2 linked regions of the Homo sapiens genome follow. The protein of the gene in region 2 purifies or fractionates together with the protein of the main gene of each other region. This does not show direct contact. Each region holds a gene or a part of one and is shown on either strand. Other genes may lie near its edges. The genes, in order: FCHO2 and MACC1.

The links.
Region 1: the proteins of MACC1 (region 2) and FCHO2 purify together in Homo sapiens (affinity purification with mass spectrometry; one large-scale study listed by BioGRID and IntAct). This does not show direct contact.

What each region holds. Positions count from the first base shown.
Region 1 is NC_000005.10:72,986,835-72,990,661, reverse strand, and holds part of FCHO2 (F-BAR domain only protein 2), read right to left. Parts: intron 1,236-3,827; coding exon 1,161-1,235; intron 185-1,160; coding exon 43-184; intron 1-42. UniProt on the Homo sapiens protein: Functions in an early step of clathrin-mediated endocytosis. Has both a membrane binding/bending activity and the ability to recruit proteins essential to the formation of functional clathrin-coated pits.
Region 2 is NC_000007.14:20,151,177-20,155,003, reverse strand, and holds part of MACC1 (metastasis-associated in colon cancer protein 1), read left to right. Parts: intron 1-622; coding exon 623-811; intron 812-1,472; exon of another isoform or gene 1,473-1,740; intron 1,741-3,827. UniProt on the Homo sapiens protein: Acts as a transcription activator for MET and as a key regulator of HGF-MET signaling. Promotes cell motility, proliferation and hepatocyte growth factor (HGF)-dependent scattering in vitro and tumor growth and metastasis in vivo.

The sequences.
Region 1 (3,827 bases), on a different chromosome or scaffold from region 2:
ATATCTGACCAATCAATTATTTAACAAGAAAAAAACTGATACCTTTTTATGAGACTTTACTTGTTCTTCTCCATACTTCTGAACTTCCTTTATTAATTCTTGTAATTTTCTAACAAGATCCAAGTGACAATTTGCTAATTTCTCTGTAGATGTTTTGAATACATCCCATACTGGTGCAAATGTTCTAAGAAAATAAAAAATATGGGAATAACTTATTAAAAGTAAAAAAGAAAATTAAGGTTCTAACAAGGAACCAGTGGAAATAATAGTGGTATATATGGCAACTTTATTTAGGCAAAAGATGAAATTAAAATAATGAATAAAATGATTGACAGACTGACCTTGAATTTTTTTTGTCATTGGTTATTTAAAATATTTTTGGACCTCAGGAATATAGAAATGGGTTAATTACATTATCACAAGTCTTAACCCTCTTAATTATATTAATTTCTGAATTGATTTAGTATTTATACTTGTATCAGAAGCCTTTCTATCACTGTCTATTGTTAAAAATTAACTATTATCAAACTTCAATTTAAAACAAGTATTCCATTTAAAATACTTCATCAAAAATAAAGTTTCTGTGAATTTAAACATGCAAAAGCCCAATTTTTAGATAATTATTCTTTCCATAATTGTTATGGCAATGAGCACATCTCATTTTAAATGTATTCTTTTCATTATTTTCATTTTTCAAGGAACACATTTTTAATACAAATTTTTAAAAGGAAGATTTAATGACAGTCTATAAAATCACAGGAGACATTTTTAATGCATCTTAATCATTTCAATAAAGTTTATCTTAAGTGAGTTTTTAAAGATCACTGTTAAACTACAACAGAATTTAAATAGGAACTTACAGACAACTAGAATAAATACATTGCATGTGCATAAGATAACATTTATAATCTCAAACACTATTGAATGACTAGTTTTTAAAAAGGGAAAAAATAAATTTCATTTAGTTTTGACTGCATTGACTGATTCAGCAAGTTCAATTATATTTTCTATCAAGTGAAGAATATATTAATATTTACAGATACTTTTAAATAAGCATATATTTTACTATGCTTTTGAACTGTTATGTCCTCAAAAGGAACCTAGAATCCTTAAGAACTTTGCCTAAATAAACACTGAAAAAGAGGAAGAAATTAACTCACCCAAGTTGTGAATAATTGCTTGCAGATTTTGCTAGTTTTGTCATTGACCTGGAGTATGCCTCCTCTATGGTAGCTCTGTTAAATCAAATATCCACATCATAATACTTCTTATTTAGTGACCAAAAACAGCAAAGTTATCAAAATACAATTAAAAGTGCAAAACAAAAAGATACCTCAAAAATTACATGTTAAAAATAAGTACATATATGTAGTCATGAATTTCCGGCCTATCTTCAAATGTCCTTTCTGGTATAGAACTAAAATAATTTATATCACACACACAAATTTTTTTTTAAAACAGTCTTGCTCTGTCACCCAGGCTGGAGTACAGTGGTATGATCATAGCTCACTGCAGCTTTGACCTCCTAGGCTTAAGCAATCCTCCCACCTCAGCCTCCTGAGTAGCTCACACTACAAGCATGCCCCACAACACCCAGCTAAGTTTTGTATTTTTTTGTAGAGATGGGGCCTTGCTATGTTGCCCAGGCTAATCTGGAATTCCAGGGCTCAAGCAATCCTCCCACCTAGGCCTCCCAAAGTGCTGAGATCATAGGCATGAGCCACCACGCTCAGCCACAGAAAAAATTTTAATGGAATCACAACTCTTTTTATCTTTAGTACCAATGCTTATCTGAACAGGAAATACATGAGTGCTACTTCTTGTATTCTCTCTGTCTCTGTAAGCTGGTTCACTGTGATAAGTGTGTCATTTGTATTTAATAATTCTTTGTTGTACTTAGTTTTATTATTCTTCAACACTGTGATGCACATTTAATAGAACAAGAGATTAATGACAGTCATTTGCACAAAACTAAATATATCATCAAGTCTGAAATCCTGAACTTCATTCATGGCTTAATTTATTTTGTGATCAGATCTAAAATATTAGCAAATATTTCACACTAGAAAACTGTGTTTTATATAACTACTGTTTAGCATATGAGATTTTATTCCGTAAAAAACATCCACAGCCATTAAATATAGAATTCTAAAAGACACAAATTATCCTACAGACATGTAACCTATAAATACAGAATACACATTTTGTATGGCCTTCTTTTTTTGAGACGGAATATGGCTCTGTCACCCAGGCTGGAGTACAGTGGTGCAATCTTGGCTCACTGCAACCTCCGCCTCCCGGATTCAAGCGATTCTCCTGCCTCAGCCTCCCGAGTAGCTGGGACTACAGGCACCCGCCACCACACCCAGCTAATTTTTGTATTTTTAGTAGAGACAGGATTTCACCATATTGGTCAGGCTGGTCTCAAACTCCTGACCTTGTGATCCGCCCCACTCAGCCTCCCAAAGTGCTGGGATTACAGGCATGAGCCACTGCGCCCGGCCTGTTTGGCCTTCTTAACACTACAAAACTTATAGTTTTACCTTTTGCCTGGCTCTTCTCAATGTGTGCTACCCTTAATAGGGGAACATTCTACAACCACCATCATCCCTCCATTTACTTTGATTGGTCCAACCAACTTTCTGCTTCTAATGTCTAAATCCAGATCTTCACACTACTCTTGCACTGACCCACCTGTTCAATATCTAACTGCCCCAAACATAATTAAGATATGTGAACCACCTCAAACTCAGAATATCTAAACTAATCTCCAAACTCTTTCCCAACCAAATTTGCACAAAAACCAGCTCTCTAACAAAAAGGAAATATTAACAGTAACTGCCTCTCGCTGATAGTACTGTGACTCTTTCCTGCTCCTTTAAGTTCTTCTGTCATTTTAAAATACTATTACTACAAGAGTAATACTTTGTTCACCCAAAAAAGTTAATATTAGTATATCAATGTGTGAGTTTAACAGCAAGGTAAAGAAGTTCAATTTCCAGTACAGATTAAACATCCCTAATCAGCCAGGCACGGTGGCTCACGCCTGTAATCCCAGTACTTTGGGAGGCCGAGGCTGGCAGATCACCTGAGGTCAGGAGTTCAAGACCAGCCTGGCTAACATGGTGAAACCCCGTCTGTACTAAAAATACAAAAATTAGCTGAGCATGGTGGTGGGTGCCTGTAATCCCAGCTACTTGGAAGGCTGAGGCAGGAGAATCGCTTGAATCCGGGAGGCGGAGGCTGCAGTGAGCCAAGATCATGCCACCGCACTCCAGCCTGGGCAACAAGAGCGAAACTCTGTCTCAAATAAATAAATAAACAAACAAACATCCCTAATCAAAATATCAGAAATGCTCCAAAATCTATATATTTTTTGAGGACCAACATGATGCCAAAAGCAGAAAATTCCACACCTGACCTCATGACAGGTCATGGTCAAAATTCAGTCAAAACTTTGTTTCATGTAGAAAAATAGTTAAAATAGGCCGGGCACGGTGGCTCACGCCGGTAATCCCAGCACTTTGGGAGGCTGAGGCAGGTGGATCACGAGGTCAGGAGATCGAGACCATCCTGGCTAACACGGTGAAACCCCATCTCTACTAAAAATACAAAAAAATTAGCTGGGCTTGGTGACACACGCCTGTAATCCCAGCTACTCGGGAGGCTGAGGCAGAATGGTGTGAACCCGGGAGGCAGAGGTTGCAGTGAGCCGAGATGGTGCCACTGCACTCCAGCTGGGCGACAGAGTGAGACTCCGTCTCAAAAAAAAAAAAGAAAAAAAAAAGAAAGAAAAAGAAAAATAGTTAAAATATTGTATAAAATTA
Region 2 (3,827 bases):
GGTGATGAGGGAGAGTATTTTTAATAAATTTATATATATATATTTTAAACTTATAAACATCAATAGCTTTGTTCAAAGTTGAAGGAGTGTCTCTTTTTTTTAAACACAGCAGGCATGATTCTGGGATGTTTTAAGTCATATTTTGGTGAAAATAGAATAATATTTACCATCACCAGTTCACATACACTTTAAAGAAATTCTTGTAGCCAATCCTCTCCTAGAACGAGGCTTTATTTCTTGTGAGTAAATAACTAATCCTAGAGTGATAAATTAGAGACTGCCGGAACTTCAGAGTACCATTGGAAGTGTGTAATTTAACTTCCTTTTTTCACAATTAAAGATACAAAGACACATATTAGTTAAGTGGTTTATCCAAGGTCCTATAATTAGCCACTGAATTAGTTCTAAATCTCCCCTAACTCTGGCTTAGTTATGTCTACTGTAGTTTGCTTATAGAATTTGCTTAAATGTGAATCAACTCCTTGAGCTTTAGAAAACTCGATTATACGTGTAGTGAAAAAAAAGGACTCCCATTTGTAGAATATGTAATAAAAATTCCAATTTATAGAGAGAAAAGCCCAAGTTAGTTGCTTTTAATTGTGACATGTAATTGTTGCTGCAGGCTCTTCTGAAAATGGATTGCCAAGAGTTAGTCGCACGTCTCATCCAAGAAGCTGCTGTTCTGACTTCAGCTGTCAAGCTTGGAAAAGGCTGGAGGGAACTAGCTGAAAAGTTAGTACGACTCACAAAGCAACAAATGGAGGCATATGAAATTCCTCATCGAGGAAACACTGGAGATGTTGCTGTTGAGGTAAGACTTCTGTTTGTGTAATTCAATAGTGAAAAGTTGCAGACCAAGTAACACTAATGTAATCAAACCCATACCACATTCACGGATTCACTGGGGGAATGTCCAAGATGATCCACTAACTGAATCACTGCACTAGTAACTCATCAGTACTATCTGAAATAAACACACACACTCTTAAAAGGCATTGAGAGCCCTTAAAATATTGATGTTTCTTCTTTTGGATTTCATATTCTCATGGCCTTTGATCAATGAATTAATTGATCAAATTGGGCCAGTAAGTGGGGATGGCTATAAGAACTTGAGTCATAAAACAGGTAAATTTTGAAGGTGGGAGACAGGATCAAGTCAGGACAATAGAGGAAGACATAATGATATGTACTTATCGGCCTCAGGCATAAACTTAGTCACTTGCGATAACTAATGCTCAGGGACAAGAAGTAGTAAGAAAGTGGATGTAGAGCCACTGGTGATGAGAGATTGATAACTAAGAGCTTCATTATCTCCTTCACAATGTTGCCTACAGTAACTACAGGCATCAGTTGCAGAATGTTAGCACTTAGTACAAAGTAAATATTTACCATGAAAATATTGTTTTTATCAAAACAAATGTATGCTGTTAGGCACAAGTTAAACACATATTTTTCTCCAGATTACCATAAAGAACTGGGAGTCAATTTTTATTGAATTAAATAAATAAAAATATTCCAGTGAAGGGCACATGTAAAATATTCTGTATCTTTCTCTCAAATGAACAAGCATTTTGAAGATATTTATGTTTAAGGAAATCTTCTCTCTATTAGAGATGACTTGGTGAGAGCAGAAGCTGTATTCTTCACTTTGTTTTTGGCGTAGATCTGGGTATTAATTTTTGGAGAAAATTTTCTTGCTTCGATGCAACCATTCCAGTTGGGTGAACAGGACAAAACCACCTTTGCATGAAAAGTAGAGTCAAATCAAGTCAGCTGAATTCCAGCAGCTGCAGTGGAAGTGTCAGCAGGCTGGTTTCTGAGTTCCTGCAGCCTGGCTCTCCAGCCAGGACTTCTCCAAAATAAGACTCTTTAGCCAGGAGCAACCAGGGACTGAGGATGTCTTTCCCCTCAGAGACTACATTTATCTCCATAAACTTAGAAGGGCATTACAGCCTATAAATAAGCATAATATAGCATTTGGTGCAGTACACAAAATGGACTCAAGTGTTTACAGAATGAGATGAAAGATAGGAAGCCTTTAAGAAGGAAAAACAAATATTATGAGGGATACGCTCTTCTGATTCGGACATTTCAGTTAACTGATGAAAAAGTTGTCTAATTGAAAGCAGGACCTTTTTTTCTTAATAAGGTTCTGTTTTGAAAGAGTTTTGTTGAGAGTTATTTATCAGAGTTATTTATTCTGTCAGCCTCCTTAAGCATCTGGCTTCTCTCTAATTGTGGTTGTTTATAGTTTGTCTTCCCCTAAATCTTGATGGAGGCCAGCAAACCACCCACTTTTCCATTATTTACTTTTGCACAGCCCAAATCATAAATGACTAAGTCTTTGCCTGAGGCTGATAAACACTCAGAAGCAGAAAGGAAAGCCCCTAGGTGTCTTTCTATGATAGTTCAACTTATTGTGATTAATAGTAATAGTCATCACTCAGATTCATGTTATTAAATACTTAGAAAAATCCACAGTATATTGGCCTGAGGTCATTCCAAATAATATACAGAAATCTTACGTACGAGGTCACTTAACTAATGGGTAAATATATGCTAATTTCCAACCTCCTAAAAAATAGCTGTATAATTTTTCTCTTTGGGAGGAGATTCCTAAATATGATCAATTTACAATTCAAGTAGTTGATTTCAAAGCACACTGATATTAGTTCTGGGTAGGGGGTGCAGAGGGAGGGAAGTGCACTGGGGCAGGGAGATAATTAGGTCTAGCAGTTGCTGGGCCGCTTTTTTTCCTGTATGTCATTTCCTCAGAGGGCACACACTCCAAAAACTGCCTTCTATGTGTGCCAATGCCTGCAGTTGAGCTGTTTCGCTTACTTTCTCTCCTTTAACTTCTTTCTCTTCCCTTTGTTCTATTTTTATTGTATCTTAGGGAGAGTTATCTGGCACTGACTCCGTGACAGACACTGTTCTGGAAATATTACAAAAATTAATTAATGTAATCCTTTCAATAAAAACTCATGGGGCAGACACTAATATCTAAGATATGGAGAGGATAAGTAACTTGCTTAAACATACACAGCTGGAAAGTCCTGGAACCATGTTTAGAGCACAGACATTTGACTTCAGAGTCCATGACTTTAACCATTACACTCTGTCCATCACTGTTTAATATGGTGACTATGTTGCAGAGTCAGAAGGTGCGGCCAGGGTTAAGCAACTTGTTTCATTTTTTATTTGTCCTCTTTTCAGGCCATGTCAAGTAGCCATGATACTATCAAAAATTGCCTCAAAATTAAATCTTTACCAAGCCTCAAGCTGGTTAAAAAATGAAGTATATTAATAATAAATTTGTCAGATTTTCTGAACACCTTAACCATTTCTTAATTTTTTCTAAGGTGAAGAAAAAGCCTCTCTTTGGAAACTTTTGAGAATGTCACTTTTGAAATTAACCATCTCCTCAAGTTAAATTTTAAGAAATGTTACTCGACTTTTCTAATGACATGGTAATTACTACATAAAAGCAAAGCTGTAAAGCTTGGAATCTGATAATAAGCAAAGTATGTTTTTCAGAGTATTTCTTTCAGAAAAAATGCACTTACACTATACAAAGATGTCACTATTGCCAAGGTTCTTCCGTGAAAGTTAGTGAAAATTTATTGGCATTTTCTGAATATATTTAGAGTTTTAATTTTTTAAAAAAGGAATCAATAGCATATTAGAAAAATAGCTCACTTTTTAAATGTTGAATTTTACAAGGGGACATGCTGGGGATTCAGAGATAAGAAATTCACTGGCCTAAATTGGGTGCTCTTCACTTAGCCTTCTAGGGATGGTTACCACAAATGACAATACTTTTTCTA